3 separate regions of the Homo sapiens genome follow, and all the other regions are linked to region 1. A link means that fine-mapping ties the variant in region 1 to the expression of a gene that starts in the linked region. Tissue or cell type: whole blood. Region 1 holds a variant in brackets; each other region holds the start of a gene. All regions are shown on one strand. Distances are from middle to middle.

Region 1 (8,108 bases):
TAGAAAAGTCATCTGTACAGGCCTAAACAAATGAGCTTTGTATTTCTAACATAACAAGAAGTCTGGAGGTAGGCAGTTGCCTGAGTCAGTTCAGTAATCCAATGATTTCAGGGCCAGCTTCTTCATCATTTTCCTGGCCAGAATATAGCTACCATGGCTCCAGTCACCATGTCCATGTTCAGGACAAGAAGGAAGACTGGTAGAGACATTCTACTTGTGGAGTCTTGTCTTTTTATTAGCAAGAGAGCCTTCCCTAGTGGACTTTCCCTTTGTCTCCTTGGCCAGGATTCAGTCATGTGCCCACTTATTGGCCAATCCCTGAGGAAAGAAAAGAAAATTACTATGACTGATTTAGACCAATTTCAGCTCATTCCTTGTTGTTGAGGTAGGGGTCTACCCTTCCTGAAATCAAGGGATCTCTTTCAAAAACCTGAATACAAATTGGAGTTTTGTTACCAGGGAAGAAGAGAGAAACATTTCTTGTTTAGACTAGGCACAGTGTCTGCCTTATGTGCCAGTGGATCAAAAAGTGGCTGCACACCCAATTCAGGGTGGGGAGACTCCTGAAAACTTAGTACAAAAAGATTCACAGAACTCTGCACATTAAACTAGAAAGTTGTCCCTGGCTAATCTTGTACTCCAGTATCTCCATTGCAGAGTCTTATGTGGTTCTTTCTTTCTCACTGCAAACTAAAGATGAAGGATTCTTTTGGGAGGCTGAAGTGGGCAGATCACTTGAGGCCAGGAGTTCGAGACCAGCCTGACCAACATGGTGAAACTCCGTCACTACTAAAAATATAAAAATTAGCCGGGCATGGTGGCAGGTGCCTGTAATCCCAGCTGAGGCAGAAGAATCACTGTAATCCCAGCTGAGGCAGAAGAATCACTTGAACCCGGGGGGTAGAGTTTGCAGTGAGCTGGGATCATGCCACTGCACTCCAGCCTGGGTGACAGAGCAAGACTCCGTCTCAAAAAAAAAAAAAAAAAAAAGGATTCTTCAGCCAGTGCATAGCCCACTGCAATGGGTGGTCTCCTGCCCTTTTTCTTTTTCTTAAAATTTGTATTATTTTAATTATTTTTATGTACAGAAATCTCAACAGTGTGCATTTAACCCAGTTTGGTGGCAAGTTCTTTAGCCTTTGCCTTTTCAAGCTTGGCAATGCGAGCCACAGATTTGGGACCCAGGACATTGCCTCCCCAGTGACGGCAGATCTCATCGTATCTGTTGTTGTAGTTGGTCCTGATAGCTTCCACTAGCTTAGCCAAAGCTTCTTTGTCTTCCAAGTTCACCTGTGTGAAGGTGACAGTGATCCAGGTCTTCCTGTGGACTATATGTCCCAGTCTTGCCTTCCTCTTGATAATGCAGGGGAAGAGACCCCCATTTTATGACACAAGGCAGGTAGGAAGACAAGCTTGATGGGATCCACATCATGTACAGTCACCACCAGCTGAGCCTTCTTGTTCTCCACCAAGGTGGTGACGGTGTTAACTCCTGCTTGAAGGACAAGTGGTCTCCTAGTGGAGATGTCCCCTTTGCTGCAAGCTTTCTTCTCAGCCCGGACCAACAGCCTCTGCTTCTTCTCTTGCTTTGTCTTTCTCTTGTTTGGTCTGTAGTTGTGGGCCAGCTGAAGCAACTGAGTAGCTGTTTGGTGGTGCAGGGCCTGGGTGAACTGGTTAATTTCAGGATGCACTTTCAGCCACTTACAGAGGATGACTCTCTGCCACTGCAACCTGATATAGTGGGACCATTTCTTGAAGCAAGTGAGGTCTCTTTTGGGCTGGATGTCCTGTCCAATGCCAAAATTCTTAGGCCTTTTCTCAAGCAGGGGATTCACCACTTTCTTAACCTCCTGCTTCATCACGACAGCAGGGGCTGGAGCCACCTTATTCCCCTTGGCCTTCTTTCTTTTCGCTCCTGCCCTTTTTCATTCTTTCTCAGCTGCCAGAGCCTCTTAAGGACCTAAGGAAAAAAATAGCTAACATCTTTTGGGCTCTTACTGTGTGCTGGGCACTGTGCCGAGCACTTGGATACTATTAGTTTCATCCTTATTTTATACTTGAGAAACTGTAAGTTAACCTTCTTAGCCTGGGGCCACAATCTCTCAGGAACTGTGGACTGCTTTGTTTCCCTGGTTAGGAGCTACCAGTCTACTATTTGGTTCTTCCATTTTCAATAAGCTCAGTTTCTTCATCCCTATCACTTTATAGTGTTTCTCAGAGTATTCTGGAAAGGCTACCATGTAAGTATAAGCTGACCAGTCATACTATTAAGTGGCAAGGCCAATTCTTGACTTTCAGAGTCTGTGCTCTGAAAAACTGTGTTTAGCTATCTAATCCCTCCAAAGAGAAGGATAGTAAAATGGAGATTGAGAGGGCTAATCTAAATATCCAGCGCTTGGCGTTAAACCTTACAGACTGCAATAGACAGCAAATGTAAATTTAACAAGGCCTTTCTGAAGATATAATGCCTGAAATTTAATGCTAATAGGAGAGTTTTCATATTCTGAGGAATTTTTGTGGGGCAGCTCTCTGGGGGACAAGCATACAGCTTGTCCAATAAAAGCCTTTCAGGCGACTTCCTTCAATAAAAGCCACATTAGCTCTCAAAGAAATAATAATATAGGTGATTATTCATTTTTCAAACATGTCCTTGAACTTATCAGAACTGTACCTTTACAGAGGAATAGGAATGGGAATCTCATGTTAGATGGAAACCCTGCTTCTTACAGGTGACATAAAATGAAACACACCTATTTGAACATCATTTTTTTAAAACCTTATTTTGTTTCTTCGATGTTTTTATTGAAGCTGAAAAGCTTTTTCTGAGCAGTAAGTGACCTTGACGAAAACTGGCTTTGCTCTACAGATATTTTAAAGTTATAATGGTCAGATGGACACGCCTGATTGATACTGTTTTCACACCCAATTCTCTACTGTTTATTTTAATGTGCATAACTTGCTTGCATTAGCTTGTGCGGACTCTAACTGACAGTGGAGCATTCTGCAGTGATTTTTTTTATGGCAGTCTTCATACAAAAGTACTTTATAGTATGGTTTGAGCCAAGTTTGTACACTAAAAACTAAAAGGACAGTTAATGGGTGCAGCACACCAACATGGCACATGTGTATATATATGTAACAAACCTGCACATTGTGCACAAGTACCCTAAAACTTAAAGTATAATAATAAAAAAAACTAAAAGGACTGTTATTTTTTTCAAGATTGAACTGGAGGAAGACTCCAGGGCACTGCCCTTCCAATGCCAAGCAGTACACCCATCTACACTCTGTCATCATTATATGTAAACATCATTTAATGAGTGCTTTCATGGAAAATCGCGTGAAGAATGTGGAAGAATTCTTTTTTCCTTTTATGTTTTCACAGAATGTAAGGGCATAGGAGGTTTTGCCACCTCAAATATGGTCTTGTTTTTGCCGGCTTATTGATTTAGGAATGAAAGAATAACCTGGTTTGGGGTGTGGATTTCTAAGCATTTGATCTTTTGTTGAAATACCATTCTTATTTCATGATGTTCAAGTATTTTGACAGCTTCTTGTTAATGAGGGTACTGGAATGAGGTGGGGTGGGGATCAGGACTAAGCAGCATATCAGAGGGTATATTTGCCTTTTCTATACAATCTCAAAGTAGACTCTTGTTCTCAGATTAATTTTCTTTCTAGAGGAGGAAATACATTTGAATTTCCCACAGTATAGTTAAAGAACTTCTGTTTCATATGCAAAGTATAGCACAGAACTTAAAATAAAAATTTCCATTTGTATGCTTATGCATCGAAGTATGCAAAGACTGGTTCAATAGCTAACAGAACTAACAATAAATGCCTTTTTCAAAGGGTTACCCATTGGAGCTAGGCTATTAAAAGAATTGTGTTCTACTGCCAAGTATCTGAGCTTGCCTAAACATGCTACACTAGCTGTGAATCATTTTAGTAATAATGATGTATAGCAGAAAATTGTAATATATATAAGGAGCTTTAAGGGACTTTTTCCTCGAAATGCTCTCTAATGTAATACATTGGCCTACAGCATAGCCAGTATTATCAGAAAGGTAACAAAAGAAGAGAGGCAATGTATATTCTTTCACAGGAAGCTA[G/T]CCACTCAAAGAGTAAAACAGGCTCATGTTTTAATGTTGGTGATTGCTGGTTAGGATGTTTACTTCTGGAGAGAATCTTCAGATTGTCTCTGGTACAAGAACAGAGATCCATAAACTGGTAGCATTTAAATCACAGGTTAAAACTCCTTCATTCTCTGAAAATGTTCTAAAATTGGATTGTGGTAATAATTATACAATTCCTGTCCCATTATGTACAGAAAGAACATTTAAATCATTCATTCAAAAAATGAAATGAAAAATTGCAATCAGGAAAATTCTCTCAGTATCATGAGACATATTGTGAACCAATATCTGCCTCTTTTTTTCATGTCCAACAGTTTCTTTGTGGGAATCCAAATGAGAGAAAAGAGCATGTTGGTACCAGACACCTTGAAAGATAATTATTGGGCTATTTTGGATACTCTTACTTAGTTAAGCTCTGTTTATAACATTTTAGGAATTATCCAATAAAAATAAATACCCCCCACTTAGCAAAATACAGATTGGACATATTGGAAAGATTATCCCGTATTTAGTGCTAGGAGATGTGTGGATGGCATATTCCTCCTCTCTTCTTGAAGCCATTTCCCTCTGCTTTGTTCAGTCCGACCTCTGCCCAAGTCACATTCCCCTAACCCCTATTGCTGTCATACCATGCTTTCCCTCTCTTTTTGGCCATCTCTCTTCAGGCCAGTTTTCCCTCTAACCTTCAAGATGCCAAATATTCTTTGCTGCCTTCTCCTAGCTTGAACTATTTGCTAGGGAGTTCTCCTCCCTATGGTAAAAATAAGGACATCTCACTCTTCAGGGCCACAGTATCTCTATTTTATGAGAGGATAACTATAAGTTTGGTGGGATATAGTTTCTGGACCTGCTCCCAGCTTTGATCTTTGCCATGAATAACTTCTTTTGAACACGTGTGACAACTTGATTCTCAAAACAACAACCCTGAGAAGTGGTTATGATTGTTATTCCCATCTTAGCCCTGGGGAAACTGAGATCTAGATATATCATATAACTTTCCCGAGGCCACACAAACTAAGACGTAGCCAGGATCCAAGCCAAAAGGTTTGATACAGAATCCATTCTCCAACCTGTTATTCTATGCTACCTCTTTGAAATAACATTTATGGACTCCCTACTATGGGCTGTCATTGTACTAAGTAACTTAATACAATCTCTCATTTAATTGTTAAAACTGCCCTATAATATTAATATCAATATTTTTGGTCAGTTTTTTTTTCTGTAAAGTGAGGCTAAAATACTAGTAACCTCATGTTGCCTCAGTACTTCATCATGTCTGTATTATAACACATTATATTTAATAACATTGTATTCCTCAACTAGAAAGTAAGCTCACTGAGAATTTGTCTTACTCACCTTTGCATTCCAAGTACAAAGTATGCAGTCTGGCACCTAGTAGGCATTTATAAAATATTTGAGGAATGAATACATGCTTCCTTAATATGGTAAATGAGACAGTGTGTGATAGTGCCATCCAAACTTCATTGTTATGCAAATGCTATATATGATTAATAATAATCACCCATCTAACTATGCTTAATAGGAAGTAAGATACTCTCCTTTACTGGGTGAGATCTGCATTTTTACAGTGGTTTCTTGAATCATTGCCCTTGTCTGTGCTTCCTGGAAGACCAAAGGTAGACTGTTTTCTGAATATTTCCAGGGAAAGAGAAAACCACCTTCTTTTGAAGTTCTATACCCTATTTAAAAATCTAACCCTAATCTAAACATTAGATTATCTCTAATTTTATGTTTAAAAATTTTAAGCCTCCCAGTTACAAATGCCAGTAATGTGCTGTCTTTATCTACAGAATAAGCATCATGAATAAAGCGCAAATGTATTGTAGAGAGCTGGAAGAGCCTCAGACACCAGGCAAGTAAATCAAAACAAAGTATTGTTAATGATTACCCTGGATACTTTAAGAAGAATGTAGAAGATCAATAGATCTACAGAACATTAATCCTTCTAGAAAATGTGAGCATCCTAGATTTTATTTGTTTAAGATTGATACAATTGAGTTATATTTTTGTGAGCCTAATGGAAGAGAATCATGTCATCTCTCAGGAAAGCAATCCTCTCAGCTGTGCTGACCAAGGTTCCTCTAATTCTTTCAACCAATGAAGTAGTTGATATATTCTTGTAAACTTTCTGCGGGCAATTTGTCCATTATTGGGCCTGAACTTGAACAGTTGGAGAAAGAAAGAAAAATTAAACAACTCCTCTTACATCAAAATAATATAACTGAGTCTCGTTTTAATAAAATCCTAGAGCACATCCTAGAGTCACCTAGCAAGTAACAGGTACTCAATAAATGCTCTTCTAGTAAATGGATGAAAATCTAAATTTGTGAAAAAGATCAATAAAACTGTGATCATTTACACTCCCAAAAGACTTATCTGCTCATTTGGTTTAGAATGCCGACTTTAAATGTGGATCTTTTCACTAGTATTACGGAATAAGAATGTGAGCTTTTTCTTTTGAAGTTACTTAGTCCTTTTCCCCATCTACAGGGTTATACTTATCACCTCAGCAGCTTATCACTTTATCTATCATGCATATGAAGAGAGGGCTTCTAGTTCCTGAATTTTCATAAGTACCAATACCTAATTTAAAAAAATAAAAATCTGCTGGACCACCATGATATATAGATTTAAAATGTGCTTTAATGTATTATGACTTAGCATACGTAGCTTTCCCTCCAACATCTGTATCCTGATTTGTAGTCTAATAAACCTTCCTGCTGCAGATGGCACGTTCATAGTTGTTCTGAGGTGTAATACATCAACATAGCATTTCTAAACAGAGAGCAATAATGAATTCAATTAGGGGAGGAAATAAAACATCGAGCCTTTTCTTATAATAAATCTTTTACTAAGCTTCCCACATCACATGTTTGCTGAGGAAATAATACATGTCATTCAGATTAAGGGTTATTGTAGACTGCTGAGGGAAACATGAAATTCTGGAGGTTTCAGCAGTCCTGTGAAACCCTGAAACATGGAAAGTGTACAAATTAGAAAAGGATGTAATATGTGACTAATGATACCTCTTGGGATACCTTTGGAAACCATATTTACTGTTATGATCACTAGATTCATTTAAGCTACAGGAGTTGAAAAGCAATACCCTAGTAAGTGAAAAACACCTCTGAGTTCATTAGATGTGGTTGTAATTTAAGCTCTAAAGGCCTTTTTCCTTGCTGTCATTCTTTATATTTCTGGAAATGTGGTACTTGAACTCCTAATAAAAGTAGTCTACATCATGTTCATATAATCTACAGTTCCTGGAAAGCACATTTACACCTCCACATCTGTAGCTAAAGCTGGGACAGAACAGAAACTTAATTCACCCCAGATGTCACCCACTAGAAGTTCTGGAGTAGGGCTGCTGTTCTTAGAATTTTCTATCCACTGATTATGTCTCAAGCAATGGTTTAAATATTCAACCCAGAGTCTCCAAGCCCAAATGTTGTAAACTGTTTCCATATACTATGCCAAGTGCAAAATTAATTGAATTCCACAAAGTTAATCCCCAATCCTGTTCCTTCATTTGTGGAAGGAAATAATGGCTATTTTGACATTATTTAGACAGATAATTCCAAGTCCTTTTGTCATAAGCATCTGAAAAAGAAATTTTGTTCTTCTGGCTTGGTAAGGTATCAGTCCATACTGCTTATAAAAAGATTACATGACAATTTCTTTGGAAAAAAAAAAGGTATATGTATATCATTTGGGCTGCTGATCACCAGCATAGCATGTGATGAATCAACATAATCAGACAGTCAATTTCTGTCTAATGATATTCTTAATCTGCAATAATATTCTTCGTTCTTTAGCTTTGAATTCTTCTACTCCTCAGTTGGTATGGAATCAGTGTTCCCATCCCCAGGTCATATACTTGATTGGAGGGGCTTTAACGGACAAAATAAGATCAGTGCTTTAACCATAGGCTTCTCCACAGTGAGCAGAAAT
Region 2 (8,108 bases), 56 kb after region 1:
CCTGAGGGTTGGAATCAACTTCTTCCAAACTCCTGTTAATGTTGGACATTTTGACCTCTTCCCATGAATCATGAATATTCTTAATTGCATCTAGAATGGTGAACCTTTTTCAGAAGGTTTTCAATTTACTTTGCCCAGATATATTAGATAAATGACTATCTATGGCAACTATAGCCATATAATATATATATATATGTATATATATATGTATATATAGGTATATATATGTATATATATGTATATATATATGTGTGTATATATATATGTATATATATGTATATATATGTGTGTATATATATATATATATATTTTTTTTTTTTTTTAAGATAGGGTCTCATTTGTGGCCCAAGCTGGAGTTCACTGGCACAGTCATACCTCCCTGTAATCTTGAACTCCTGGGCCCAAGGGATCCTTACATCTCACCTTCATGAGTAGCTAGGACTACAGGCACACACCACCACACCTGGCTAATTATTCTTTTTTTTTTTTTTTTTTTTTTTTTTTTTGTAGAGATGGGGTGCCACTATGTTGCCCAGGCTGGTCTTGAACTCTTGGCCTCAAGTGATCCTCCTGCCTCAGCCTCCCAAAGTGCTGGGATTACAGGTGTAACCCACCATGGCCAGCCATGAAATGTATTTTTTAAATAAGACTTGAAAGTTGAAACTACTCTTTGATCCATGGGCAGCAGAATGGATGTGGTACTAGCAGGCATGAAAACATTAATCTTCTTGTATATCTCCATCAGAGCTCTTGGGTGACCAGGTGCATTGTCAATAAGCAGCAATATTTTGAAAGGCATCTTTTTTTCTGAGCAGTAGATCTCAACAGTGTGCTTAAAATACTCAGTAAATCATTCTGTAAACAGATGTGCTGTCATCCAGGCTTTGTTGTTCCACTTATAGAGCACAGGCAGAGTAGATTTATCATAATCCTTAAGGGCCCTAGGATTTTCAGAATGGTAAATGAGCATTGGCTTCAACTTAAAGTCAGCAGCTGAAATAGTTCCTAAGAAGAGAATCAGCCTGTCCTTTGAAGCTTTGAAGCCAGGCATTGACTTCTACTCTATAGCTACGAAAGTCCTAGATGGCATTGTTTTCCAATAAGTGTTGTTTCATCTACACTGAAACTCTTTGTTTAGTATAGCCACCTTCATCAGATATCTTAGCTAGATTTTTTTTTTTTTTTTTTTTTTTTTGAGATGGAGTCTCGCTCTGTCGCCCAGGCTGGAGTATAGTGGCGCAATCTTGGCTCACTGCAAACTCTGCCTCCTGGGTTCACGCCATTCTCCTGCCTCAGCCTCCCGAGTAGCTGGGACTACAGGCGCCTGCCACCACACCCGGCTAATTTTCTTTTTTTTTTGTATCTTTTTTTTAGTAGAGACGGGGTTTCACTGTGTTAGCCAGGATGGTCCCGATCTCCTGACCTCATGATCCGCCCGCCTCATCCTCCCAAAGTGCTAGGATTACAGGCATGAGCCACTGCACCTGGCCTTAGCTAGATCTTTTTGATAACTTGCTGCAGCTGCTTCACCAGCATTTGCTGCTTCACCTTACAATTTTATGCTCTGAAGATGGCTTATTTCCTTAAACATCATGAACCAACCTCTGCTAACTTCCAACTTTTCTTCTGCAGCTTCTTTACCTCTCAGCCTTCGTAGACTTGAAGAGAGTTAGGGCCTTGCACTCGATTAGGCGTTGGCTTAAGGGAATGTTATGTCTGGTTTGATCTTCTATCCAGAACATGAAAACGTTTCTTTACCAGCAATAAGCCTCCTTCGCTTTCTTATCATTCGTGTGTTCACTGGAGTAGCATTTTTACTTTCCTTCAAGGACTTTTCCCTTGCATTCACTACCTGGCTGTTTGGTGCAAGAGCCCTAGCTTTTGGTCTGTCTCGGCTTTCAATATGCCTTCCTCACTAAGCTTAATCATTTCTAGCTTTTGATTTAAAGTAAGCTTTTGATTTAAAGTAAAATGATTCTTTTACTGGAACACTCAGAGGCCATCGTAGGGTTATTAATTGGCTTAATGTCAATATTGTTGTGTCTCAAGGAATGGGGAGGCCCAAGAGAGGGAGAGATATGGAGGAAGGTATAGGGTTGGTAGAGCAGTCAGAACACACACATTTATGGATTACAGTCGCTGTCTTATATGGGTGCTGTTTGTGATGTCCCAAAGTAATTATAATAGTAACTTCAAAGATCACCATAACATATACAATAATAATGAAAAAGTTTGAAATATTGTTAGAATCACCAAAATGTGACAGAGACATGAACTGAGCACATGCTTTTGGAAAAATGGCGCCCACAGATTTGCTTGATGCAGGGTTGCCACAAACCTTCAATTTGTTAAAAAATGCAATATCTGGGAAGCACAAAGATGTATGCCTGTTAAAGGTTTTAAAGAAGCCATTTTTTTTAAAAGAGAAAACTTTTAAGAAGCTTTACAGATAGAAGACAGTAAGTATTTGTTGACTAAATGGTCAAGTTGGAGTGAGCAGATTTTATAATTTTATTCTACTAACCACCACCAGCAATTTTATTTTTGATGCTTGTAGATGGACAGTGGTGCCAATGTCTATTCGGCCTTCTGTTTTTTTGTTTTGTTTTGTTTGTTTTTTCCTGCCAAAGGACGGTGCTTAGAACTTCCCAGTCTTCCTTGTAGTGGGGAAAATCTGTCACCCCAAGGATACGAATTAGGTAGAAAAGTAATGTAAGAGCCAATCACAACGCGCGCTCCGGAGCGGCTCCAGACTGGCTTCGCCCGGACGACTGGCGGAAGACGAGACTTCGTTACCTCCGTTCAATCGGACAAAGAAGGCCATAATAGTTTAGGACAAGAGAAAATTCCTTGTGGGTTAAACTGCGGTGGGACTGACTGTTACGCAGAAGGCGTAATCGCAAAACTTGTATACACTCTGTATCATGGATACATTATTTTCTGGAATCCTGCAGAAACGATCAGCAGTTGTGATGGCACCAGTACCGAAAATGGCTGTAAGGCGCTCCGGACGCTGGATCAGGTGACGCAGCATCAGGTGACGCAGCCTCAGTCCGCCCCCTTCCCACCAGTGGCTCCTCCTCCTGCTTCCCGGCGTAGCGGTGGGCGTGGCTTGCCCACAGGCTCTTTCTTCTGGGGCCGGGAAAACCGAGGAATACACATGCGCAGTTGGACCCCTCAGGCCCTTCGTGTCCCTTCCCACCCATCTCCCCGCCCCGGCCCTCTGGGCGGGGCTGGGCCGACAGTCCAGCTGCAGCTCGCTGGAGATTCAGTGACTTCCTTGTTGTGAGCCCCGGCCCGGCAGTGTCCCGACTCGTAGCCCCGCTGTTCTTAATCCGGGCCGCTAGCCTGAGTCTAGGTCGCAGCCGCAGCCCCACCCCGTCGGTCACCTTTTCAGCGCAGGTCCTTTCCCCGCACGCCCTGCGCTCCCTAACATGCCCAACCCCAGCAGCACCTCCTCTCCCTACCCCCTCCCTGAGGAAATTAGGAACCTGTTGGCAGGTAAAGAGCGGGAAGGCGGCGATAATGCTGTCGGGGCGGGGGCGAGGGAACGGTGAGCCGGTGGGGACAGAAGCATTCAGAGCCCTTATCCTCCCTCCCCGCGCTTCCCACGTCTTCTAGCCAGTGGGGTCGGCACAGGGAGGAGAGGAGAGGGGTTGTTTTGTCTCAGAAAGGGAGTGGACGTGTGTGTTGAAATTTGGTGCGGGGATGGTGGCGAAGCCCTTTTTGGTGATCTACACAAATGGGATCAGGACGTTTCTATGTGCATTGTGAAGACGGTGTGTGTGTGTGTGTGTGTGTGTGTGTGACAGAAGGGCGGGGGAGGAAGAGTGGAAGAGGGAGAGAGAATGATAATGATAATGAATGCTGCGTGAGCAAGCAGAAGGGAGCAGAAGTCAAATAAGTAGTTCTTGGGTGGTCTGGCCAATGGAGGTAGAGGATGTAGAGATGCAAAGAGCTGTCAGAGCCACAGGTGTTAGGGGTTATGGGGTGAAAGAGTTTGTCATTTCTAAAACTCCCGTTTTTCTTAAACATTCAGCTCACTCACGTTTAAGACTTTTGAAGAAGGTCTGGTTCTCAAATGGCCACTTGTCCCCAGCCTCAGTAATATATTAAAGCAAAAAAGGAAGGATATGTTAAAGTTCTACTTCCTGTGTGACACGATGAAAGTACTTCATCTTTGTACCCTTATCTTCCCTTTTTCAGTTTTACATTACCATTTATAGGAACTTATTTTAGGAGCTAAAAACGTGGTTCTTCAGTAGCATTATGAATCCACTACTAGTTCATTAATTTACTGGATACGGAGGTGTGTATGTTCACTAAGAACCAATAATTTATATTTCTGTACAAGGTAGAAAATATATGTTTTTAAGGTAGCACAAATCTTACCTATCTCAATGTTCTGGAATTTCAACCATCATTTATTTTGTCTTGTGTACGTCAGAATTCTGGAAACTGAATTTTGATTTTTAGTTTTAGATGTCTATAAAATATTTATCTCTCAGTATTGCTTATGAATAACTAGATTACAGATTGCTTATTCTAGCTCTTAAAAAGCAATGTCATCTAAAATGTGACATTTGATGACACATTTTATATGTTACTCCTATAGCAATGTGAGTCCAAATCTCCTAATATTCTGTCATTCAATTTTGGTGCTTGGCATTATTAATATGGTAGTGTAATATTAAGTGTATGAATGTAGACTTATGTTTGTATGATTATGGTACAGTATGTTGAATGCATTTGTGGTGGGATAGTCTTTCACTCTAAGAAATGCTTGTTGTCATTAACGGGTACCACTAAGGGAAATAGTTAAAGAAGTCTAAAGACTGACTTCAGGCAGCTTTATTGCATCACATGACTACTGATTTTGTTTTACTACACTTAACATTTTTTGTTTTTACAATGCTGGAATTGTTTGTTCAGAATATTATTGTAATAACCAGCGCAGAAAAATGTTTATCATTATTCCAAAAATAGATGAAACCATTTTCAGGATATTCTATGTCTGTATTTTTGAATTTAAGAAATAACATATAGACCTCTGGGTGCATGTTTTAAAGCTTGGTACCTCCCATAGTACAGTTTGTTATTTGGATCCATAATCATAAATCACAGATAATATGATATGTAGGTCATGAGAACCTTTATTCTCTTATCCCCATAGATCACAAGTATTTCCTGTGGCCCTTATTTGTGTAATTTAACTAAAAACTCAAAATTACATATTTAAATTATCTGCCAATGCTAACTTCCAATATATTTCTGCCTTCTCTCTTTAGTCAGGTAATATACTAGCATAGCATCTGAAATTATTTTAAGTCATTTTATTGACATTTTCACTATTTTATATTATTAAAGCAAATCACATATTAAAACACACATGAAGTATTAAAAAATATTACAATTAAAACTTTTGGAATTGGAAATTTGGATTACACTTTATTTTCAGAGGATATTTTCAAGAAGTATGGAAGTGAGTTGGGGCGTATTTATGTTTAAAGAAATTTAACAAATCAGTGTTTTTCAGGTTTTAAAAAAACTTATTTGGAAAGTTGCTAACATTTTATGTTTGACTGTAATTAAAATCTTTTTTGAGGTAGAGAACGCTTCAAGAATAGATGCTGTCAGCAATTGTTTCATGTATTTCATCTAAAAATATTGTTAGCATTGTACATGATTCTTTTCATAATTCAAGTGTATTGGGTAATAGTATATGACTAGATTTAGAGTAACATTATAGAAGTATTTATATTGGTTTGAATATTAGAGATATTGCTGGCTTATTTAGTCTATTTCTTTGAAACTGAGGAGATATTGGTAATGGTGTTGTAGTTAACAGTTGAGTGCTCTTAGAATGCATGGTACTATGCTAGAATTCCAAGGTAGAGAAGATAAGGAACTAAACTTTTCAGGGGTTTAAAGTCCTTTGTTTTTAGAAAGAAGAATATATAATCAAAAGATAATGACTGTTAAAATAATGTTGCTTAGATGTATCTGTTTGTGTTCCATATGCCTATTAAACTAAATCATTATATGTCATATGTACTGTTTGAAATTTCACCTGCTTAAAAGGGATAGGTACTCAAGTGTATTCTTATTTATTATTTTTCTTTCTCTTTATTTTTCTGTCTGATTATGGCAGTTCTATGCTATACTTTCAACATTTGTTCCCTCTCCCTTTTTCCTTCCCCTATAAAAACCATTCCATAGAAATGTAAAAAAAAAAAAAAAAAAAAAAAGAGGTTGTTATTGTTAACTCACATGTGTTGTGTAAAGATACCATTGAAAAAGTGGCTATCTAGTTTGATTTTTAGTTATATTTTCTGTGGAGTCAGTCTTGAAGACCTATGCTTTTTATAAAATGTTGATTATTCTTTTGGTTATATGAACAGAAAAGGACTTACAGAATTTCGTTGTTGAAAGCAAATTTTGAGCTGCCATATGCATTACAGGCAACCTTTGATTTTTTTCTTTTCTACAACAATGGAAAAACAGGTTTAGCCTGGATAATTGAAATCAAAGGACAATCCCAAATCTTGTCCATTTAATCTTCTCTCACATCCAAATATTTTGACTAGGACTAGCAGCAAGAATAATCTTGATTTATGTGATTTTTTTTTTTCTCTAGACAGGCAAGAAAGTAAGAGGAACTAGAACCACTTCCCTCCAGCCTCCTTCATTTGTTTAATCACCCTTTAAATAATGGTTTGTTAGTGGCTTGCAATCAGACCTTCTCATTCATCCTCATTCATTTGTTTTAGGACAACAAATTTTAAAAGGAAAGCTCTAAGAAGATGTTATTTTCTGTTTACTAAATTAGCAAATGAAACCATTGTTAAAAGAAGAAAATAGTGATTGTTAGTGCTCTGAAAAATCAAACCAAACCAAACAAACAATAAATAAGTGATCTTGAGGTTTTGTTCACATGGCACTCTTGATTAGAAATACCACATTTTCCCTACTGGGAATTTTTAGAACATTAGAAAATTTTTTCCCACACATTGATTATAATGTGTGAATATTTTTTTCACACAATATTATTTAGGGTATGTAATCAGTCCCCTAAAGGGATTCCTGTAGGGGCACTAGGTGAAGAGTGCAATTTATTTGAAATAGAGGCAGAATTTTTTCAATGCTGAGTATATTACGGTTTAATTTCCACCTTTCCAAAGTTCCATTTATAATTTGGTCAACATTTTGGTTTTATTTTTCCTATGAGAATTATTTATGGTGTATCTAGTGTCCCATAACTTCCTTCTGGGACATTGGCTGAGTATGTAAAGGGAAGAGTGCCACCTACTGAGTCACCAATAGTCACCTACCTCCTTAGCACCTGGGTTTTCCTATGGAGCAAGAACAAGCCTGCCCCATTTGGGCAGCAATCACTAAAGAGCATAAAGTTGATATGAGAACATTTAATCTCAAAATGAAATCTATCGTACCTCCAAGATATTCTTTTCTAGAAATAGGAATATATGTAAATTAAGGGACTAGAGGTTTACAGAGTTTTTTGTATGGGCTAAATAATATAGATGAATTAAGATGTGGTGTTAGGAAAATTATTTGCCTATTTTAAGTATATAATGTCCTGCTTTTTCTTGGGAGGAGATCTTTTGGCATGGCTGTCCATTGAAAGTATTTTCATCTCATTACTATATAAGGCTCTTGATACTACGTACAGTTTTTATAGCTACCCAATCCAAATTATCATTGGTTTTCTTCAAAAAGAAGAATCTAAACATATTAAAAAATTAGCATTATATGAAAAATTTGCAAATGGGCTTATTGCTCCTGTTACCAGCATTAAAGTATTACTAGAAAGAAGGTAGACACAACAGAGTAGGAAAAGCTGCTGGTGATTTGAAACACAGTTTAGTTGTCTCATAAATTTCAGATTAAGTGTCATATATGGGTGATAAAAGTGGCATAGGCTAGATTTTATATACTCATGATTCACTTAGTTTGTCTTTTTCAATTAAAGCTAAGTCTCTTTTTCATTCCACTGAATTTACATTTCTTTTTCAATCACATTCTGAACACATTACAATAGATGCTGCCTAAAACTGAATATAGTGTAAATCTCAGACTAATGTGTTATT
Region 3 (8,108 bases), 200 kb before region 1:
TGACTCTTTAGAATGAAAGAGAAGAAAAACCCAAAGAATCAATGTAGCAAAAAAGCCTGGGGCTTCCCCTCTGAATGAGTGGGTTCTGTGCAGGCAGTAGGCTGCCCTTGGCACTCCCCTGGTCTCTGCATCCCTAAACACAGTCTTGTATAGCAGAACACAGGCTCACCTTTCTCAACTGCTGCTGTGTTGCCCCTTCCCTATATTATACACTGTCCCAAGAATAATTCTGCTTCGTGTTCCAAAGAAACACATGGGCTGGAAACAATAGGAGGAAGAGACGTGTGTTCTGTTCCCTTGATGGTATGAGGGAGGCTGCTGTGGCTGTCTTGAAACCCTCTAGGCTGCAACTTACAGAACTCTGGCACCTCTTCTGAAGACTCCAAAATCACGGGGCAACCCCTTCCCTTTCAAGCCAGCCCTACTTTCTCTGGGATTGTTTCCTGGGGCTGAAAGAGATTCCCAGATTGAAAGACTGTCCAAAGTGAAGGAGACCTGGAGGCCATTTTGGTTCAATCTTCTTAATTTACAGATGAGAAAACTGAGGCAGCCGAATGATCCTCCCTCCACCGTTCCTTAAGTTAATGAGTACGAGGGTGGAATGCAACCTTTAGTCTCACTCTAGAGAGCAATAAGAGCACAGACATCTTTCCTCTTAGGAAGATATTCTGCCAGGAATGGAGGTATGCATCTAAGCTTACACTTGACCTGGACGGTCACAGGTGTGTACAGCCAGAGAAGAAGGATGGGTTCTTGCCTCATGGGCCATCAAAGCTGCTTGGGGAGATTTTGTAACCAAGCCACCCTAGTCATAGAGCTCAGACAGGTGGACTGGCCACTGGGCTCAGGAGGGGACAGATGTCAGGGCATCTCGGAGAGCAGTGGACTCCCCACTATCCACAACGGTCATAATCCCAGGATGACTAATTCTGTCATGCTTGCCCTGCTATTTCCATGGTGGTGGCTTGCCTCAGACCAGGGCAAGGATGAATGTGCCCCGGAGGCCGGCAGAGCCAAAAAAAGGACCCTGGTTGCAGCTGATAAAGGTGTAGCGCCTGTGCAAGGGAGATATTGAAATTGTAATCTTTGAGGTCACGTGACTCATTAAATAATTAATGCAGATCGTCAGGAATGGATCGGAGTCGTCAGGGCCTCACTAGGAATGAATCTCTCAGAAGTGAGATTCCAACTTACCATTTGATTTTTAAAAACACACACCCTCAGATTTATCTCCAAAGGCTTTTAACTCCTTCAGGAAGGCAGGAGAGAGCCCTCGGCAGGGAGGACGGAGCTGGCAGGCCCTCACCAGATCTTGGGGCCTTTTCCGCAGGGTTTCTGCGAGTCCAGGGAGCGCGCCGCGTCCGGGGAAACGTGAGTTCGGGCTTGGGTTTTCTGCGGTCACATCCTGGCTTTGGTGATGAAGTGGGACGGATGCGCAGACAGTTGGTAATGTTCTGATTCACGCTGGGGAAGGCTGCAGAGATACCACAGGACGGGCGCGCGGCTTTGTTCAATTTTCCCGGCGTTCATAAATCACCCGCGCCGGGCGAGCGAGGGAGCAAGCGAGCGCCAAAAACGCGGAGAGAGAGGCCACGGCGGCGGCGGCAGCCATTGTAAAGTGAGAGACCTGGGCAGCATCTCTCTGTGACTCATTAGTCTGAACGATTTATGGGGTACAGCAGCCATGAATATTAGACTTGGAGATAAGGAAACAGCAAAAATAATAACCATAATAATTACATACTCCTAAGTGTCACGCAGGGGAGTGGTGGGTGGCGGCATAGCGGATCTTTCTGGAATGAAATTGAGAGGCAAAGTGCAGGATGGCTGAGTCCACCTTGCTCATGGTCATGCCAGGAGCCCCAAGACCAGGGGGCACTCCCTTTGGGGACACAGAAAGCAAGTTTGAACAAGAGAAAGGGGGCGCAGCGCGCAGCGTGGATCCTGGGTCCTTTTCCTTTGGTTTGTGGGGGCTACGGGTCGAACTGTGGCAGAGCGCAGCTACCGGTGTGCGGCCACTTGTTCCACGTGCTAGGGGGCTCCGAAGCCAGGGGTCAGGGGACTCCTCAGCTATTTGATATCCCCTCTTAGCGCTATCTACAGAATTGCGTGAAGGCAGACAGACAGCGGAGGGCTGGTTTGGGGCAGGCTGGGGTAAGAGGTTACCTGGGTCTGAGTGAAGGGGTAGTCGGGGCAGGGATAGGTCTGTAGACGCAAAGGGCCCGCAGAGTCCCAGCGGAGCGCAGAACTTCTCCAAGCCAGGGTCCGGCGAGCGGACGATTCTTTCCTCTTTCCCCATCATCTCCCACTCCCAGAAAGCTGACTGCCGGCTCGGTGACCATTTGCTGGTTAGAGGGCAAGAGAGGGTTGCAAATACTGTGAGGGACGAGATTTGAGCAGAATCAAGGCATCAGATCGGCTTGTGGCCGTTGCGCAAGGCCAGGCAGGAGCAGGGCCCCTGAGCAGGTATTGTACCAGCCGGCGTCCCTCTCAGTTTCCAGCAGCCTTAGCTGGCCTGCTCTGAGGGACTAGGTGCTGCGGTAGCCCCGCCAGCCCACTAGGACCTAAAAGGAACGCACCCAGAGTTGAATAAACCAGAACACAAATCCTCCCAAGACTGCCTCTGGCCAGTGGAATGAACCCGGGTCTGATTTCGCGCCTACAGAAATGAACACATATTAGTGAGGTTTCAGGAGAGTCCGTGATTGAATGCTCCCAGACAAGGCTTCCTTTTGTTAGGAAAGGAAAATAAAGCAAGCATTCACATTCTCCAAGTTGTGGTGCCTGAGGAGAGAGCTCTCTGAAAGCAGCCCACACCACCAGCAAAGCCACTTCCACCTTCTCAGCTTCCTCTGTTTGCTTCATGTCCTTTCCTTCCCCACTCCCCCGCCAAAAAAAAGAAAGAAAAAGGAGAAAGTATGGGTGTGGAGATGGAGTATGTATTTATTTTACAAAAATAAATCACCATCTTCGGACCATTTGTAGACTGGAACATTTCGAGCAATGAGTGCGCCACACGGACGAGTGCCCTGGTGACTCCCTGATGTTCGCGTCACCCCCAGGGCCACCTTGGCGCCCGCATGAGCCTCGCTTCCCACTCCCGGCCTCCAACTCCCTTCCCTCGCAGCCGCCATTCACCTTCTGCTGTTTATTTGTCTGCAGAGCGCCTGGACACCGGAAAAGGCGATTCCCTGAGCGCCTGGAGTTGGAGACAATTCCTGGTTCAGAATTTAAACATCTTTCTAGGTAAGCGCTGCTCCAAAACTCTTCGCCGCGTGGGACTTTGCACCAGGGCGGTTGGGAGGAGTTGGCCCTCCACGGTTCCTGGCAACCGCGGCCTGTTGAAAGAGGTTCTGGTCAATATTTAACTTCGGAGGAGTTTGGAGTTGGATTCCTTTAAGCTTCTTGCCCTGCGAGTGCGGGGCCTCAGGCAGACAAAGAGCCTACCCCAAAACCAGCGATGGGCAGGAGAAGCGGTTGCAGAAGGCAAAGATGGGTTGTGGAGAGTCAGAGGGAGTGTGTTTGTTTCTTCCTGCAAGCCCCAAACAAACCACTACACTGAACTTCAGGGCAAAAGCAAGTAAAGGCCACGGGCACGGGCGCGGCGGCCGCTGCGTGGGCTGCTCTCTTTGTCGACTAAGGCGACTGCGGAGGCTGTGAGTTAAGAAATTGTCGCCAGTCCCAGCTCGCTGTTGAGGAAAACTTGTATCACACTCTTGCAGTTTCTTAGACCATTTTGCCTTTCCTTCGGCATGAGAAAAATTGCTGTATTTCTAACCTTTAGGCCTTCGCAGACAGCGGGTCTTCTTCCTTCTTTCATCAGGGCTCATCATCGGTTCTTCCTACGGGAAAAGCGTGGTTTTCTATGTCTTGGCGTTTCCTTTTCCTATTTGAAACAAGGGAAAACTCTTTTAAATTATTTTCAAGTTCTGACTTAATTTGTCCTCTTAGTTTGGGATGCAGGGAGGTAATTACTGTGGTTTATTACCTTGTAAAAGATCCATAAATTACATGCCTGTTTGGGGGAGGGGCTGCTGGAATAGCTTTCAGAAGCATGGTATGAAGGAATGAGTTTGCTTTGTTCTTTCAGGAATTACTTCTTTTTAAAAAGTTTTGAGATTTTGTATTCTATTTCCTAGGCCTCCAGTCTTCCCTTAAATTTGCTCCCAAATAGATATCAGGTTGTTAATTAATTGCAACATGATATTCAGTCGTGCTATAAGGCTGATATGGTGTTCTGGATACAATTATTTTTTCCAATAGAAGGTAAACAGAGCAATAGTCAAGCTGTGTTACTTTCTCAGCTACTGTATGTCTGTTTATATCAAATATAGATGGAACATTTCAGGAATTTGTAACTCTGTGTATATGATTTCCATCTCAGCAAACAACAGAACAATTGCATGTATAAATAGTTGCAGGAATTTGGGGCCTTGTGTATAACACAATATACACATCCACACGTGTCCAGAGAACTTGGCCCATTTCTCTACTGCACTTGCACCCACAGGAAATATCTCATGTTAAATAAGAATCTATCATACACACACACACACACACACACACACACACACACACACACACGCACACAGTGGGCTAAGAGAGCCTTACCTGATGCTGAGTAGAAAATCCACTAGATTTAAGTAATGGGACAAAAATGTTAAGTGTACTTTTGACAGAGAAATCAGATTGCAGTGTTTGAGTACAGATATATCTAATCTGCCAACAGCCTTGCAAATATTGGCTAACGGTGTGTACCCTTGGTTGCCTGCTTTTTCCAAGCCAGCTTTCCCCCTATTTTGGCTCTGGTGACCAGGACCACAGTATCAGTCCCAGCGCAGGCCAAGTTGGAGGCCGGTGAAGTGAGTGAAGAGGGACTGGCAGCTGGGTTTTTAAAAGGCCCGTAGCTTTGCTCCAGGAAACTGGATTGCAGAGTGGCAAAGGAGGACTGTCAGCTGCTGGTTCCCCAGATAGGCTGCCCAGGCCAAGATCTCTCATAGAGAAGCTGTTTTTTAACCTCAAAAGTTAAATGTCTTTTGACTTTTCAGATTTTTCCCTTCTCATCCCACCAAATCACCCATCCCACCCCAAGTCATTAATGTTAATTGTTAAACAGCAGTTGGAGCATTAACTGGATGTTAGCAGCCGTTTGGAGGCCCCAGGCTGGAGCTGAGATGCCTCTGAGCTTTGCTGGCGTTAAGGCATTTCTCTGAAGCAGTACCAATGACTTATTTCATTGATTTATGGCTTTTTTTTTTTTTTTTTTTTGACAGAGTCGCGCTCTGTCCCAGGCTGGAGTGCAGTGGTACGATCTCAGCTCACTGCAACCTCTGCCTTCTGGTTTCAAGTGATTTTCCCACCTCAGCCTCCCGACTAGCTGGGATTACAGGCATGCACCACCATGCCTGGCTAATTTTTGTATTTTTAGTACAGACGGGGTTGCACCATGTTGTTCAGGCTGGTCTCGAACTGCTGACCTCATGATCCACCCACCTCGGCCTCCCAAAGTGCTGGGATTACAGGCATGAGCCACCGCACCCGGACAATTTATGGCTTTAAGAGTTTTCATTTGCTCGACTGTTCCAAGAGCTTTGAAGGGGGCCCCTTCTCATCTTTGAGTTGATGCCTCTTCAGAAACTTGGGGGTAGGGAGGAATTTGCCAGCAATACCTCCAGGTCCCTTTCTAGGGTATCTGGAGAGCTCAGTGTGAATGATTGGTGAGGGGTATGAGGCAGGCAGCAGTAAGAATGAGAGGAGTGAGTTCTTGGGGGTCAGGAGAACGCTTTTTGGAAACCAGCTTCTACTCCTGTCCTCTATCCCCCAAACCTGAGAGAGGCAGGTTTTCACTTGGAGTTCTTACTTTCCAGCTTGTAACTTAGATAGGAGCTGGAAAAGTTCACATGGAGGTTCTCTTCCAGCTACACCACAGATTGAACCTTACTGAAATATTGTCACCAGCTTAGGCCAGGACTTGCTTCCAGGGGATTAGGTCTCTTCTTTTATTGCCTTTCTGATTTGGACAACCCATGAACAAGTTCTCTTATGAAAGGCCTTACATTTTCATCAGACCCCTTCTGTTCCTCTGCAGGGGAGGAGTGAAGGGGAGGAATCATGCACAGCCTCCTGCAGCTGCTATAAGTGAGTCCTCACACTCAGGCATAGCCAGCTGAAGACCCATTCTCCAGGAAAAAAAGAATATGGCCTGAGGATCTCACTAGCCTCAGAGCACTCTCAGAAGTTCAGAAACTAAGACCAGAAAAGAGAAGATTTTTAGACAGCTCATGAAACGGTACAATGTTGAAATTAGTGGGCAATGTCATCAGGCAGAAGGCAGGAGTAGGGGTGGAACCAAGGGTGGGAGCAGCTTATTTGTTTCAGTTAGGTTCTTCCTGAGCACAGTTGGTTCTCTACTGGTTTTCTGCTCAAGATTATTTTGAGAGTTCTGAAGGGGGCTCTTTCTCATCTTTGAGTTGATATCTCTATAGGAACTTGTGTGGGGGTGGGGAGAGAATTTGCTGGTGGACACAGAATTGTCTTGGAAAAGTGGGTGGACAGACCTGCCTGTGGAGAGGGTCCCAGATTGCCTTGTTAACTTAAGGCACTCCAGTGAAGGTTGATTCTTTTTCTTTTTTTTCTTATTTTTTTTGGGGGGGGGGGTCTCTTGCAGAGCAATTAGATCATTTCCTCTGATATTTTTTATGTTTAGAAACTTATAATTCCATGTATCACTCAGTTGTGCACTGAGGAAATGCTTAAGTGCAAGTTTAGTCAGGGCACTAGGTTTCTCTAGATTTTGCAAAACCCGGACCCACCACTCTATAGCCAAGCACATCTTTCCTAGTGGGCTCCCACTGAACAAAACCAACTGGACTTGGAGGAGATGCTTTAACCTTTTGTCAGGTAATTATGTGCCTTTTTGGTGTTTCTTGCGTCTGTAGTGTATGGTGTGGGTGTTAGCAAACTCCATACAATGGCAGGCTGTGAGGAAGTCCGCTGTCCAGGCCAGTTATTTCTGGGCCTGCCCCTTGCCTTTTGATATACTGGCCTGTGGGCCAGAGGAGACTGGGGTGCATGGGTGTGCAGGATCCAGCTTGTCCGTGGGTGGGAGGCTGTAAGGAAAGTTAAATGGATTCTAAAAATGTGAATAGCATTGCTGTAACCCTTGTGTTTGGAGGGTGTGTAAAGAAATATAAGTGGAGATAAGCTTGTATGTCTTATATGGCATTCATGGGAGGATGGCTCCAAGCATCCTATTGCTTAGACAGAACTCTTAAACTCAAAACTGCTGGTCAAGGTTCCCCACCTACCCTCCCCCAAAGCTAAATATTCTGTTTGGAAACCTAGTTCCTTCAGTGGTTCCCTATTTCAAATAAAAGGATTTAAGTTGACGTATGACCACGTGAGCACATAATACAGCGCATTATTGTGGCATTTGGAGCGGAGACCCAGACAGGCTTCGCCTGTGATTACGTTTTCTAGATTCTCTACAGAGCCAGAGCTTTCCCCCAACCCCCACGCACCCACCTCCTCCTTCTCCTTCCCCTTCTCCGGAGAGCGCTCTCTGAGCCGATTGCAGTTTTCAGCACTCATGGAGCGGTTCTGGGCGAGCTAGCCGATGGAAGTCGAGGCTATACCAGGAGGATGGAATTTATTTTAAGGTATTTCCGCCGATTGTTCATATCTAGAGTGAGTTATGGCTGTGAGAGACAAAGGTCAGGCGAGGAGACCCTGGCTCATGGACAGGACCCTCAGCCTCTCTCTTCCTTTGTTTCTCTTTTAGAACCGAAACCATTTGAAAGATTCCCAGTAGCGCCTCAGACTCTGAATTTAATTCCCTGGAAAGTGTTGGGGGTGTAAAGGAGGGGGCACTAGGGGGGCTCCTAGGTGGGCCCAGTGGCCCCCAGTGCAAGGGTGGCTTTGTCCACTGCAGCAGGGCAGGGCTGGAGTCTCAGGAGCTGATCCCCAGGCGGAAAGAGGGTCCAGAAGCCAGGTGCAGGCAGAGGTGGACCGGCTTGCAGGGCTAGATTGCCTGGGAGGGGTGGGGGATGGGTGGGTGAGAAGGGGAATCTCTCCCAGGATGGCGGTGTTTTCAGGCAGGGGATGGAGGA

The links. PIP is the estimated chance that this variant, and not a neighbour inherited with it, causes the effect.
Region 2: SKAP2 starts here. The variant in region 1 is fine-mapped to the expression of SKAP2 in whole blood (INTERVAL, PIP above 0.99).
Region 3: it holds the start of HOXA-AS2, and the variant in region 1 is fine-mapped to the expression of HOXA-AS2 in whole blood (TOPMed, PIP above 0.99).

What each region holds. Positions count from the first base shown.
Region 1 is chr7:26,915,912-26,924,019 of GRCh38, reverse strand. It overlaps the pseudogene RPL7AP38. Among named protein-coding and RNA genes, the nearest start is that of SKAP2, 55 kb to the right of the region's middle. The variant G/T (reference allele first, on the strand shown) is at 4,113.
Region 2 is chr7:26,859,756-26,867,863 of GRCh38, reverse strand. SKAP2 (src kinase associated phosphoprotein 2) reads left to right here and starts at 3,274. Exons shown (of 13, transcript NM_003930.5): 1 at 3,274-3,501. The coding sequence starts at 3,435. RefSeq lists an enhancer at 2,707-3,036.
Region 3 is chr7:27,117,697-27,125,804 of GRCh38, reverse strand. HOXA-AS2 (HOXA cluster antisense RNA 2) reads right to left here and starts at 3,886. Exons shown (of 4, transcript NR_122069.1): 1 at 3,779-3,886; 2 at 3,139-3,338; 3 at 2,167-2,345. It overlaps HOXA3 (homeobox A3), which reads left to right. Exons shown (of 6, transcript NM_153631.3): 4 at 3,163-3,246. RefSeq lists enhancers at 937-1,734, 2,534-3,331, 2,910-4,109.